Linked DNA regions of Homo sapiens. The protein of the gene in region 2 interacts with the protein of the main gene of each other region in a biochemical or structural test. Each region holds a gene or a part of one and is shown on either strand. Other genes may lie near its edges. The genes, in order: SEPTIN9 and MYO1C.

The links.
Region 1: the proteins of MYO1C (region 2) and SEPTIN9 form a complex in vitro, tested with the Homo sapiens proteins (one study listed by BioGRID).

The regions. Positions count from the first base shown.
Region 1 is NC_000017.11:77,487,381-77,494,642, reverse strand, and holds part of SEPTIN9 (septin-9), read right to left. Parts: intron 7,220-7,262; coding exon 7,091-7,219; intron 6,404-7,090; coding exon 6,322-6,403; intron 5,917-6,321; coding exon 5,779-5,916; intron 3,902-5,778; coding exon 3,784-3,901; intron 2,023-3,783; coding exon 1,927-2,022; intron 1,664-1,926; coding exon 1,567-1,663; intron 1-1,566.
Region 2 is NC_000017.11:1,468,473-1,475,734, forward strand, and holds part of MYO1C (unconventional myosin-Ic), read right to left. Parts: intron 6,561-7,262; coding exon 6,466-6,560; intron 6,387-6,465; coding exon 6,340-6,386; intron 6,219-6,339; coding exon 6,138-6,218; intron 3,757-6,137; coding exon 3,651-3,756; intron 3,553-3,650; coding exon 3,435-3,552; intron 2,865-3,434; coding exon 2,751-2,864; intron 2,676-2,750; coding exon 2,599-2,675; intron 2,218-2,598; coding exon 2,149-2,217; intron 2,048-2,148; coding exon 1,963-2,047; intron 1,863-1,962; coding exon 1,703-1,862; intron 1,143-1,702; coding exon 1,059-1,142; intron 25-1,058; coding exon 1-24.

The DNA.
Region 1 (7,262 bases), about 76 Mb from region 2:
TCTAGCCAGTGGCACAGGAGTGTCTGATGCCTCCTGGTAATTGTCATTATGACCATTTTTTTAGAGCAACAGCTTCCCAAAAAGCTCTGTGGTCTTTGGGACAGTCTCTCAACTCACTAAAATCTTGGCACACTGCACCCACTTTGTGGATGATGAAAACTGAGGCCCTGGAAGATTAAGAGACTTGTGCTTCCTGCTCTACTGGGCCTTTCAGCCAAGTGCTCTCCCAGAACAAAGTGGCTTTTCCTGCTGCATTTCCCTCTGCACCTTCCCCTCTTCCATTCTAATGAGAAATGAAGGGACAGAGAGAGGAAGGGGAAGGAAACGTTCGGGCCCATCCCTCCCGGGGTGTCACCGCCAGGAGTGGGTTGAACTGTGGCCCCCCAGGGGCTCCCATCCATTCAAAGACATGGTCAAGGTCCAGGCCTTGGAACCCATGATTGTGACCTTACTTGGAAAACGTCTTTCTTTATAGATTCATTAAGGATCTCCAAATGGGATCATCCACTTAGGGTAGGCCCTAAGTCCAAAGACAGGCATCCTTGTCCAAAGACAAGAAGGAAAGAGGGCAGGCTCGGTGGCTCATTCCTGTAATCCCAGCACTTTGGGAGGCCAAGCAAGGTGGGCAGATCACCTGAGGTCAGGAGTTTAAGACCAGCCTGGCCAACATGGCGAAATCCTGTCTCTACTAAAAATACAAAAATTAAGTCAGGTGGGTGGTACGTGACTGTAATCCCAGATACTCGGGAGGCTGAGGCAGGAGAATTACTTGAACCCAGGAGGCAGAGGTTGCAGTGAGCTGAGATTGCAACACTGCACTCCAGCCTGGGTGACAGAACGAGACTCCGTCTCAAACAAAAAAAAAAAAAAAAAAAAAGGAAGAGGAGGGACGGGACAGAGACACAGGGAAGAAGGCCCTGTGACAATGGGGCAGAGATTAGAGCATGTGATGCCTTTACAATACAACTAGGAATGCCAGGCGCCACCAGAAGGAGGAAGGCATGGATGAGGCTGGTCCTCAGGGCCTCAGAAGGAAACAGCCCCTGATTTCGGACCTCTGGCCTCTGGAACTGTGAAAATACGTTTGTGTTGTTTTAAGTCCCCTCGTTTGTGCTAATTGGTTACAACAGCCACTCAAGAGACTAAGGTGTGAGGGTCCCAGGAACTTCAGCAGGGTAAGGGGCCGAGGGTCCATCTGGCTCACAGAGCTACAGCCCACCCCTTTTCTAGGCCCAGAGAGGTTGGGCGATTTGTCCAGGGCCACACAGGTGCCTATGAAAGAGCCTGCACCAGGATCCAGAACTTGGCGGCCCCCATCCCAGCTCCTGTCTCCCTGAATCTTTCCCTGCCCGGGGGGAGGTCTGGGGTGGAGGCATCTGCACAGGCCACTTGCCCTCTCACTTTCCCAAGGGTTGAATGGGGACAAGGAGACCCCTCCCTCTGGGTGGGGCAAGGCAGTGGATGAGGTTCCACGAGTCCCTGGCTCAGGCGTGGCCCACAGGCTCTGGGTCAGCAGAAGAGACTGTCTTCCCATCTGTCTGGAGCCCCGGCGCCTGCGGCGAGTACCTTCGATGGTACCCCACTTGGTCTTCCTCCCAAGGATCCTCTTGCCGTTGACCTGGTACTCGTGGTCACTGCCCACCACAGCAAATGGGATCATCTCCTGGGGAACGGGCAGACGGTATTGGTTACACATGTGCGGGAAGGCAATTCCCTCCCCTGGGCCCCCGGGAGGAGCTGCCCTGAGCCTGGGGTCCCCCAAAAACGAGAGCCTCAGCCTGACAGCACTGGGTACAGACACCTGGGCTCAGTGCCCTCTGGCCCCAAGAATATAATTTCATGGCTTAAGGTCCTCCAAACCCCCAACCCACCCTTCAGCAGGAACTGGGGGTCCCCTGGGAACAACATCCTAGTGGATCCACTCACCCGGAACTTCTCGTTCACCAGCCGGTCCTCCGAGTCCTCATCAAATTCCTTCTGGGGGTACACGTCGATGCCGTTGGACAGCAGGTCTGCGGTGATCTGGGATAAGGAGGGAGAGAGATGGGCCCATCCCTGTGGCAAGCTCTACCCACCCACTGGTGTTTGCCACATGACCTCCACACTGTGTGCTGCCCCAGGCTCGGGTTCAAGGGCAGGCTCTGGGGGGCTGTGACACCAATCACCTCCAACTCCTGTGCCTCCTGGAGGGAAGAGGGGCAGCTGCAGGTGCACCTGCTGTCCTGAGCGACGCTGCAACTCCCCAGGGGCTTAAGGTCATCGTCCTGAGCACCTCCCACCTCTCTTCTCCTGCTCATCACAGCCCCAAGAAAGTACTCAGGGTTACCGAGACCTCCCCTCCTGAAACCCTTCCTAAAAAACCCTCGTCACAGTCCCCAGTTCCAGCAGGGGCCCCGCCTGCAGTAACCTCTCAGCTCCCTGCCAGCAGCCCGACATGGGTACGTGCAACAGAAACATCCCAGTGAGCGGCTGCTCGCCTGCCCAGGCACAGACCACAGCCCGTGTGTAGCCTCCGGCAGACACACCCACTTTGTGTGGACTGTCTTCCCCTGCACATGCTGGGAAGGTCCCTGACACCTGGCCCCAGGACGGAGTAGGTTACAGGCCCCACCCACACCCACCGAGGCAGATGTGGTGCCGCAGCCCAGGCACCTCGGTTTCATTTTGAAAGGCACCCCATGTGGCTCTGATGTGCTGCCCTGTCAGGAGGAAGAGCCCAGGGCTGCCCTCTTGCTTGGATGCCCCTCCCTATCCCACAGCAGGGGCCTCAGACGGTGGCGGAGAAGAAGGTGGCAGAGACCATCCCTCCTGAAACTTTTTTTTTTTTTTTTTTTTTTGAGATGGAGTCTCGCTCTGTCACCCAGGCTGGAGTGCAGTGGCTCAATCTCGGCTCACTGAAGCCTCCGCCTCCCGGGTTCAAGAGATTCTCCTGCCTCAGCCTCCCAAGTAGCTGGGACTACAGGCGCCCGCCACCATGCCCGACTAATATTTTTGTATTTTTAGTAGAGATGGGGTTTCATCATGTTGGCCTCAAACTCCTGACCTCAAGTGATCTGCCCGCCTCGGCCTCCCAAAGTGCTGGGATTACAGGCGTGAGCCACCACACCTGGCCCAGCTTCTCTTCCATCTAATAAAAACCAGGCAGGGCGAGGTGAGGTGGCTCATGCCTGTAACCCCAGCACTTTGGGAGGCTGAGGCAGGAGGATCCCTTGAGCCCAAGGGTTAGAGACCAGCCTGGGCAACATGGCAAAACCTCGTCTCTACTAAAAATACAAAAATTAGCCAGACATGGTGGTGTGCGTCTGTAATTCCAGCTACTCGGGGACTGAGCCTGGGAGGTGGAGGCTGCAGTGAGCCATGATTGTGCCACTACATTGCAACCTTGGCAACTGAGCCAGACCCTTTCTCAAAAAAAAAAAGGGGGGGCATAAAACAAGGTGGGCCATGTCGCACGGCCCCTGCTCGGCCTCACTCCCTGGAAGAGAGATTCACCATCTGCCTGGTCCAGGTCTTCTCCAAAACCCCCCTCAGAGACTCTGCTGGAGAATTGGCACTCCCACAAAGCTGCTTTTGAGATATGGGGGAGCTGGAGAGGCCATCTCAGGGACGGCCCCCAGCAGCCACCTGGGCCAGGGACCACCAGGCCAGCCACCCGCTGGGGAGAGTGACCAGCGGTTCGGTCTCCCTGACAGTGTGACTCCTTTAGACGGGGTGGCCCCTGCCAGGCCTGCAGCGTCTCCAGGTTGCACAGAAGGGCTGGGGCAAGTAGAGATGGAACCCTACCCGCTGTTTGAAGTGGACCCTCTCCTCCAGGGTGAGTGTGTCCGCCTTGGCGATGACAGGGACGATGTTGACCACCTTGCTCAGGCGTTTCATAAACTCGATGTCCAGGGGCCTGAGGCTGAAGCAGAGGGATGTGCGTGAGGCTCATCTGGGGGAGCGGGGCAGTGGGGGGGCACCCACCCCCAAGCAGGTGTCGACACTCTCAGGTGCTGGCTCGGGGCTCACGGGGGTCCCTGCTGGCAAGGACAGGGCCCCGGGCCGAGTCGGCCACGCTGTGAGTGTGGGGCAGAGGAAGGACACGGGTGTGTCCCAGACACAGGTGACACCACTGCACAGGCCAGGCGGGCCAGGGCCAGCTCCAAGCACCCTCGTCCATGAGTTCTGGGGTCCCAACCACACCCCTACATGTCCACACAGAAGGGCTGTCGTTGGCTCAGCAGCCGTCTTGCTGTGGGGCTTTGGCTGGGAGGGGAGAGGCAAGAGAAATAGAAGCTAGCACCAGTGTGCGGTGCCCCTGCACCAGGCGGGCTGCTCCCCTGCACCAGGCGGGCTGCTCCCCTTGCCTGCTTGGCCCCAGTGAGCCTGGGGTCTGATGTGGGGAAAGCTGTGGGTGGCAGGGGCTGGCAGGGCCCTGGAACTGGGGCACCATCTTCCCCAGTTCTGGAGCCGAGCTTTTCCCACAGTGAGAATAAATCGGTCACACACATGGCTGGGGAGAAGCCCGCTCCGGGCAGAAGTTTAAGCAGAGATGGCCAAGGCCCGCCCCTGCCCCATGGGACTGGACGCCTTGGGCGGGACCAGGCAACATGCCTAGCTGGAGTCCCAGCCAAAGGGTCAGTGCTGGGGAGTGGCAGAAGTGCCACAGACCGCCCGCCCGCCCTCGGCTTGCCCAGCTGGCATCAGGAGAGGCTTCTGCCTCCTGCCATCAGCCTCAGCTGAGGCAAAGCTTGGAGCAGCTGGAACAGCTGCCACAGGACCGCAGGTGAGCCGTTCTGCCTGGGAGGGCAGATGTTCAGTTCAGGAGAGGCCCATGGACAGCGGGCTGGCCCCCTGCCCCTGACTCCTGCTGGCCCACAGAGGATGATGCCAGAGGGTGGGCTCGAAAACTCCGGCTTGGGTTTTCCCACAGACTCTGGGTGAGGCCCGCTGCCCACCAGCCAGGCTCCTTCCTGCACCTGGTGCCCACAGAGTATGGTTTCCCCAAACCCCTGGGCTTCCTCCGCCCAGGGAAGTACATCTGGGACAGCAGGTGCGAAGGACCTTCTCCACCCACCCATGCAGACAAGCCACCCACGGCTGCCTCCACCAGCCACTCCTGCTGGCCTCTGGTCCTCCTCCTCCCAGCCCTGGCTCAGGGTGAGCCACAGGTGTCTGGCAGGGGGTGCACAGGGAGCTGAGGACAGAGGGTCCGTGAGGCCATGAAGAGTCCACCTGCCAGGGTACATGCAGCCTCCCGCCCTTGCTGATCTCTAGGGGCGACGTCAGGTGCGGACAGAGCCGGCGGGAGGAAAGGGCTCTCACCAACACCAACAGCAGCCCCGTCCAGCCCTGGAAGGGGCCAGCACTGATCTCTGTGCTTCCCGTCTAAGAACGCACCAAACCCTCTAAGGGGTCCCATGAGGCAGGGCCCGGATGAGAAGGTCAGTCACCGCTACGGGTGCTTGGCTGGGGGCTCCCACTCCACCTGCCAGAGCCTGGCCTGAGAAGGCAGGACACAGACCACCAGGCTCCAGAACAGCCCAGGGCCTGCCTGACCCTCAGCTCCCCAAGACGCAGCTGAAGGATGGGGGCTGGGCAGGACACTTGCATAGGGGTCAGTGTGAGGCTTTGGAGGTGCAGACATGGCACACCCCCAACTTCATAGCTGGCGGCCATGGCCCCTGACTCAGCCCCTCTGCACCCAGCAGCAGGGCAGACAGCACCGTCTTGCAGTCCCAGGGGACAGAGGGAACCCAGGGCACCCGGCATGAGGACGCCGACACTGCAGGGACGTACGAGTGGCCGGTGGCGGGGATGAAGTAGAGGCAGCAGTGGACGCGGGTGTCCGGGATGCGCTTCTTGCGGTTGATGTTGACCTCCTCCTGCAGGTATTTCTCGTACTGGTCATTGATGAACTTCATGATGGGCTGCCAGCTGCGTGGGGGATGGGGACGAGTCAGCAGGCACATGAGATGCCCTCCCCAAGCAGGTCGTGCATTCCCAGGACTCAGAGCCCAACACCCCACCTTCCAATGAAATGCATGCCCTGGGAGGTCTGGCTTGCTGAGCGGAGATGCCACAGCCTTACCCTCGGCCTCCCAAACCAGCCTCCCCGGGCTGGCCTCAGGTGATGAGTTGGGGACAGCAAGATTCCCCAGGTAATTCTGCTTTGGTCCAGAATTTTCAGGCCCCTGAGACGTGCGGCTTTGGCAGCATGTCAGGTCCCAGGAGGTGGGCCCTGCACCCCCGCGGGCCGGGAAACCTCTAGGGCTGACTCTGGGTGGGGTCCAGGGAGCCCTGAAGCCCCCGCTAGTGCTCCTCCCCCTGGAGGGGCCTCACCAGTTCTCGTTGTTGATGTGGTCCCCGAACCCTGGTGTGTCAATCACTGTCAGCTTCATCCGGACGCCTTTCTCCTCAATATCTGCACAGAGCCACGGACGCAGAGTCAGAGGGGAGACGGAAGACCCTCACAGACACCCCACACCTGACTGACCCCGGGGCAACCCCAGGTAGGCAGCGATGACAACCAAGGAGACACCGGGAAATTAATGGCCTTCCTCAGCCAACTCCGGCACAGGCCGGTGACGGTTCCCCTGGGAGCCCCTTGCCTGTCAGACTTTTGGTGGAAAACTCAGTTGTCTGTGGGGAGCTCAGTGTGACGGGGCCCACAGGGGTCCGGGACACTGACCCATCACAGCCAGAGCCCCAACATGCTCAACATGCTGGGGATGGTGGGCACAGCGAGTCCCCGTCTTGGGGACCTGGGATTGCCTGACTCGGGCACCCTCACACCGCACCAGTGCTCCAGGAAGGCATGGGTATCCCACATCCCCAGCCCATCCCCAGCCACTGACCGTGTGTGATGGTCTTGACCCCCAACCCCTGTGCTCCAGGAAGGCAGGGGCGTCCTGCATCCCCAGCCCACTCCCGGCCACTGACTGTGTGTGATGGTCTTGACCCCCCACTCTGTGCTCCAGGAAGGCAGAGGAGTCCTGCACCCCCAGCCCGCCCCTGGCCACTGACTGTGTGTGATGGTCTTGACCCCCAACCCCTGTGCTCCAGGAAGGCAGGGGCGTCCTGCACCCCCAGCCCACTCCCGGCCACTGACCGTGCGTGATGGACTTGATCTCGATGGTCTTGGGGATGCGCTCCTCTGAGGTGGGCTGCACCGACTTCCGGCTGATTTTGGATTTGAAGAGGGTGTTGATTAAGGTGGATTTACCCAAGCCGCTCTGCCCTGGGGAGAGGATGGGAGGCCGGTCAGGGGTCTCTCCGGAGAG
Region 2 (7,262 bases):
ACTAGCCACGGCCTTCTGCTGCAGCTGAGGAGACAAGGGGGGTGAGGAGAGTGTCATGGTGGGGAGCACCATCTTGGGGGGGCAGAGCCAGCCTTAGGACCTGAGACAGCCTCCCTCACCCGCTTGCTGGTCCCTCTCTGGCTCAGCACCAGGAGGCTGAGCCCTGCCCCCCACACGCCCATCAACCCTCCACTTCCTGACCCTCTGCCGCCACCAAGCACTCCCCAGCGGGGTCATGAAGGCACTGCGGGGTTTTGAAACTGGCCTTGGTAATGCTTCCCCACCCCATCAGGCCCTGGTGGCCCTGAGACTCAGCTCCAGCTTGGGGTCTTGTAAGCAGCAGATCACTAATACTCAAGGTTACTGGGTGGGCCCTTTAGCATCATCCAATACTGAGTTGGCAAAAACACGGCACATCAACCAATGCCTGTAATCAGGGCAGATATCACCAATCGACCCGAGTGAAGACGCAGACTTTTCAACACAGGGTTCTGAGCAGTCTCTACCAATCAAGGGCAGTTGGCCCACGATATGAACCCTACTGGCCACCCCAGCTGTACTCCAGTGTCCACTTCCTACACGAGGCCCAGCAGGGCCTGGCATCCAACTGAGGTCACCGGTAGACCGGGGTAAATACGGTAGACTAGGGTAAATAGAGCAGACCGGGGTAAATAGAGCAGACCGGGGTAAACAGAGTAGACCGGGGTAAATACGGTAGGCGGGGTAAATATGGTAGGCAGGGCAAAATACGGTAGACCGGGGTCAATACTATAGACGGGGTAAATACAGTAGATTGCGGTAAATAGAGTAGACTGGGGTAAATACGGTAGGTGGGGTAAATACAGTAGACCGAGATAAATACGGTAGGCGGGGTAAATACGGTAGACTGGGGTAAATAGAGTAGACCAGGGTAAATACGGTAGATCGGGGTAAATACGGTAGAACGCGGTAAATACGGTAGACCGGGGTAAATGCCCCTCCAGGCGGACACCCTTTGAGCAATGCTTGCGACTCCCTGACTCCACTTCCTCATCCTCACCCAGCCCCGCTCTCCGTACCTGCTGCTTCCACTCAGGGCTGATACTCCGGCAGTATTTCCACACCATGTTCTTTATGCACAACTCCCGCAGAAGCTCTGAGGCCTAAGGGGAGGAGTGAGGTCAGAGGTCCTGGACACCCTGGGCCCTTCCCTCTGAAGACATCGAACATATGCTACTGCATCCTTTGGATAAGTAACACCCCCTCCATCTGGAGACGCTTCCGGTCAAGAGACCTTACTCGGCAGGGCGCGGTGGCTCACGCCTGGAATCCCAGCACTTTGGGAGGCCAAGGTGGGTGGATCACCCGAGCTCAGGAGTTCAAGACCAGCCTGGCCAACAGGGTGAAACCCCGTCTCTACTAAAAATAAAAAAATTAGCCGGGCGTAGTGGCGGGCGCCTGTAGTCCCAGCTACTCAGGAGGCTGAGGCAGGAGAATCGCTTGAACCCGGGAGGCGGAGGTTGCAGTGAACCGAGATCATGCCACTCCCTGGGCGAAAGTGTGAGACTCCATCTCAAAAAAAAAAGAGACCTTACTTTTCACTGCTCAGCTCTGGTCCGGGCCCTCCGTGAGCCCTCCCTGACCAATCCTTTGGCCCGAAGAAATCAGACCCTTCTGCTGTGTACTATGATGGTCCCTAACTTGGCAGGGGGTGCCCACAGACCTCACGCAGGGCAGGTGGGGGCGTGGGCCACGAGGTGTCCAGGACATTCTGGGGCAGCTGCCGCCTCAGGTTTAGCAAAAAAGAGGTGCGCACATGGTCCAGGAAGAAGGCGTTCTCGGGGCAGCGGGGGGCGTGGCGCAGGACGAAGCCTCGGATGAGCCTGGGGTGGGGGGCCAGACAGGGTTGGGGGTGAGGGGCCTGGCGGTGAACCACCCCCCACGCCCTGCTCTGCAGCCCCCACAAGGCACCCTGGCGCTCACCGCCGGATGGTCTGTGCCGCCCACTTCCTCTTGGCTGCCTTCCTCCGGCCCAGTGTTCCACGCCACCACGACTGGATGCAGATGGCTGTCGTGGAGACCACAGATGGCTGAACTCTATCTTCTTACCATGGTGGCCCCCCCTGGCCCCAGACCCCGCCCCTCCTGAACACCCATGGGCCCGCGAACCTGATCTCTTCACCCGGAGGAATTTCTGCCGCCAGTGAAAGCCCCTCCAGGCAGCTTGGATCTTTGTGGCTGCGGTTGGGAAAGAAAGGCAATTGGCCAGAGCGCGGGGAGCCAGCTGGGAGCCTGGTGCCGTGTGCGCTCCACGAGTGGCATGAATGGGAGAGTGGCTGAAGGAACCAACGAGCAGGAGGAGAGTGGTGAAGAAGAATGAATGTGGGGACTGCCCGGAAAAGGGGGGCGGCGGGTGGGATGGTGGGCGTGGGGCTGGAGCTGGTGGGGAGGGGCTCCAAGTCGGCCATTGGACTCTCTGGAGAAGGACTCCCTGGAGCTGGGCGTGGGGCTGGAGCTGATAGGGAGGGGTGGACTCCCTGGAGAAGGAGCCCAAGGGAGTGACTTCCCTGCTTCCCAGAAGGGACCCCGTGCAGCAGGAAGGGTAGGCCTCTCTCTCACCCAGGCTCTGCCGCCGGACCTCCAGGGCATCCTCTGTGGCAAACAGGGTCTTGGGGAAGCGGATGAAGATCTTGGTCCTGGGAGAGCAGTAGTGATCAGCCCGGGGTTGCCACTCCCATTCCCCGCAGGCACCCGGCACGGACACTACCCACCTGCCCATCTTGTACTCTTCTGGCTTGTAGCCCAGGTGTCGGACCAGCACAGCCACCCCATCCTGCGGCCGTCCTGCCCACGTGGGCCACGTCTCTGGGCACAGTGACTTGTACCTGGGGACAGGAATGCACGCGGCTCCCACCCCAGTCAGCAGCCTGCCCTGGGGACCCCAATCAGCTTTCTCTGGGCACCTGCTGGGTGCTCCCACTGACTCGTTCACAGCTAGCAGGAGGCTCACTCGGTCACTGCCCCCATTTTAAAGATGAAGAAACCGTTCTTATCTACCTAAGGCCAAGTAACTAGAAAGTGGCAGAGATGAAATTCAGTTTGACCCCCCAGGCCCCCGACTCAGAAGAACCACAAAGCTGCTCCACCCTTTCGGAGCCCCTTGGAAGCTGCCCTACAAGGCTTGCTGTCTGCCTCTGGTGCCCGGCACGTGGACGGAGGCCTCCTGTACCCCTGACCGGGTGCTCCTGGAGGGCACGGCCTGGGGGAGCCGGGTATTCTTTCCACCCAGCCTGATGTCAGGACCGCAGCACCAAGGGCCTCCACCAAGGGCAGCCCAGGGCCTCCGCATCCGCATTTCTAAAATGGGGCCGAGAACCCTTGTCTGCCCTCATGGGACCTAGGGGCTCCTACCCTCCCGCTCCCCTTCCCTGGCACCGAGCAGGACCTGCCCCCACCTTTGCAGGAAAGCTTCGTATTTGCGGCGATAGGCAAAGCCGGCTCTGCGCACGCGCAGGTTTTCCAACAGCCCCAGGTACTTCACCTGGTGGCGGATCAGCACCTCGTCAAAGCGGCCTGGGGTAGGGGGAGCGCCGTGGTCAGCGGGCTGGCGCTGACGGCCTGTCTCCTGCAGGGGAGGCCCGGCCCCGAAGTCCCCCGTGGGAGGGGCCTACCGGGCTGTTTGGCATCATTGGGTTTGATGCAGCGGACGTAGGCGGGCTCCTTAGACTGCAGGATCTCCACCAGCTGCAGGAGGCTCATCTTGAACTGGGTGGCGACCTGGCGAGCCAAGAGGCATGGGAGGTTGGCCGGAGCTGGGCTAAAGCTGCTGACCCCAGCAGCGAGTACCCCACTCCCCTGGCTGGTGACGCGCGCAGCAGCCTCTGATTCTGCCTGGTCCTTACTCCTCCCACCACAGCTTCCTCGCAGCAGAGGAGGGGGCCAGACTCCACCCCTTACCCCTCTGGCTGGGCGAGAGACCTCAGTCTACGAGCCTCACTCCAGCCTAAAACTCCTGCTCAGGTCTCCCAGCAACCTCAGTGCTACACCTCCCTTTAGTGGCCCTTCTTTTTCTTTCTAGAACTTCAGGGCTGCGTTCCTAAACAGCATGTCCCATGCTACGCATTCAGCTAGTATCTGGGTATGCTGCTCTGCGGGACCTGGAAGGATCTCAGGCCTGGCGGAGGAGCACGCTCCTTGGCAAAGACTCACAATCCCGGTGTTCCGAGAGTAGCAGGTGTATGCCTGTGGGTTCTGAGAGCCCCACAAAGGGACAATTCATCCAGTCTGAGGGTTAGGGGGCACCAGGTGACGTCTTCTGGAAATGACGCTCTGCTGAGCTTTAAAGGATAAGGAGGAGGGGCGGGTGAAGTGGCTACAGGGAAGGACTGAGGGGGAGCTGCTAAGTACTCCGGCAAGATCCAGTGGCTGGACAAGGGAGACAAGGAGAGAAAAGAACGAGGGGGCCGGAGCCGGGCGCGGTGGCTCACGCCTGTCATCCCAGCACTTTGGGAGGCCGAGGCGGGCGGATCACCTGAGGTCAGGAGTTTAAGACTAGCCTGGCCAACATGGTGAAACCCCATCTCTACAAAAATAAAAAAATTAGCCGGGCACGATGGCGGGTACCTGTAATCCCAGCTACTCGTGAGTGTGAAGTGGGAGAATGGCGTGAGCCCAGGAGGCAGAGGTTGCAGTGAGCCGAGATCGCGCCACTGCACTCCAGCCTGGGTGACAGAGCGAGACTCCGTCTCAAAAACAAAAACAAAAACAAAAAAGGGGATGACACCCAGGTTTCTGGCCTGGGGGACTGGGTCAAAGAAGGAGAAAGCCTGGAGGGGCAGACCAAGGGCCCGTTTGTTATAGACCAGTGGGATCTAGGGTGCCCTGGGGCCACCTAGGGGAAGAGGATGAGATACACGAGTCTGTGGCTTGCTGGAGAGGCCTGGGCGGGAGGGTGTGTAGGCATCCTCAGCAGGGAGACGCTAGGGCCGGGAGGATGTGGTGCTTCGGGAGAGGGTGGGGTGGACGGCAGCAGCGGGCAGGGGCACAGTGAGCCACACCCTGGGCAGCATGTCGCCTGCATGCCCTCCCTGCCAGGCAGTCTGGCTTCCACCTCCCTATGGACTCACTGACCTCACTCTTCTGGGGCTCCCCTGACCCTCTTTTTGCCAAGCCCAACAGCCGTACCTCCGCCTTCAGCTCGCTGGAGCCCTCCCTGCATCTGGCACCCTGGCCATGCCTGCCTTTCCCCCGGTCCTTCTCCTTGATGCCATCGCTTTCCTGCTCACCTCATGGCCTTTTTAGACTCTCTGTGTCTGGACTGGGCCCTCACTATAGGTTCATCTGACATTCCCAAGTCATCTCCAATGCTTCCTCCTCCAGGGAGCCTCCCCAACCCCTCACCCCTTCCGCCCCGTCAGGCCGTTTGCTGTTCCCTCTTCTAAGTTTGCAAAGCACCCTGTGCACATGTTGCTGCAGGCACACCCACTCATTGTGGTACCTCAGTGCCTGGCAGTGTCTGCTATAAATGTCTGCTGAGTGGGTAGACACATGACAGCAACCGCACAGAGGCAGCTGTCAACATATGGGCACCCACAGAGACAGACGTACACAAGGATTCCCCTACAGACACAGCCCACACTGAAGACACACGACTCCACTATAGACACAGCACACACACACAAGTAGGCAAACAGGGACAGGCGTGGTGGCTCACACCGGTAATCCTAACACTTTGGGAGGCCGAGGCAGGTGGATCACCCGAGGTCAGGAGTTTGAGACCAGCCAGGCCAACATGGTGAAACCCCATCTCTACTTAAAATACAAAAAATTAGCCGGGCATGGTGGCAGGCGCCTGTAATCCCAGCTACTCAGGAGACTGAGGCAGGAGAATCGCTTGAACCAGGGAGGTGGAGGTTGCAGTGAGCCCAGATTGCGCCACTGCACTCCAGCCTGGGCAACAGAGCGAGACCCTGTCTCAAAAAAAAAAAAAAAAAAAAAAAGTAGGCAAAGAGGCACCTAAGGCAGCCCCCTACAGACACCTGCAGATGTGCACGGGCTCACACGCGTTCACACGCACGCTGCCAGCTCCCAGGCTCACACAGGCCCTCATGCACACTCAGGCGCATGCACCCCTGCGCCCGGTCCCGCCACCTCCTCACCGTCTCTGGCCGCTTCTTGTCACTGAGCTCGCTCCGGTCAAAGCACTGGCTCATAATGGGATTCTTTGAGCTACACATGGTCTGTGTGGGCAGAGCCGGGGTCAGGGTGGGGCACAGGGACAGGCAGGACAGGCTCCTGGACACAGGTGCAGAGCTGTGGGCTATCCCCACCCCCACCCCGGCCTCCCCACGTCCTCCTCACCTCCTTAAGGTTCCGGAAGAGAAGGTCATTGTTTTTGTCCAGAAACCCTGGGAGGGGAGAACCGACGTGAGGTGAGACAGAGCCTCCCCGCAGGCCCCTGTGGGGACACAGCCCCAGGATCCTCACCGGTCACGCTGTAGGTCACCTCCCCCGCATAGTGCAGAAGGCGGAATTCCCCTCGGCCCAGAGATTTCCTGGTCCGCTGGTCAGCCAGCTTGTGCCTGGGGGTGACAGGGAGGAAGCTGCAGATGGCTGCCGGCCTGAGCCAAGCCCTCTGCCTGCTGAAAGGGCCTCAGGAGCAGGAACCAGCTGCCCAGGTGCACCCCAGGCCGGGCACAGTGGCTCACGGCTGTAATCCCAGCAGTTGGGGAGGCCGAGGTGGGTAGATCACAAAGTCAGTACTTCGAGACCAGCTTGGTCAATATGGTGAAACCCCATCTCTACCAAAAATACAAAAATTAGCCAGGCGTGGTGGTGGGCGCCTGTAGTCCCAGCTACTCAGGAGGCTGACAAAGGAGAATCGCTTGAACCTGGGAGGCAGAGGTTGCAGTGAGCCGAGATGGTGCCACTACACTCCAAAAAAAAAAGAGCAGGTGCACCCCCAGGGCTGGGTCACTGAGGCAGGCCAGGCAGGGCCAGTGGCCTCCCTGATCAGAGCGGACCATGGAGGCTCAGAGAGGTAGATGGCCTTGGCCAGGGCCACACAGTGCCAGGACCGGGACCTGGGCCTCCTGACGGCCAGGGTACGCTGCAGGGAGGGAAACTCTCGTTGCTTCGGCCGCTGCGGGCTCTGCTCAGAAGGGGTGGTGAGCTGCGCACTACTTTTCAGAATGGAATCTGCTGCCCCAAGAGAGCACTTAAGTCTTAGGCGTGTTTATACCCTTTCACCCATTTGCTTTTAAGAACTATTTCAAGCAGCTAAC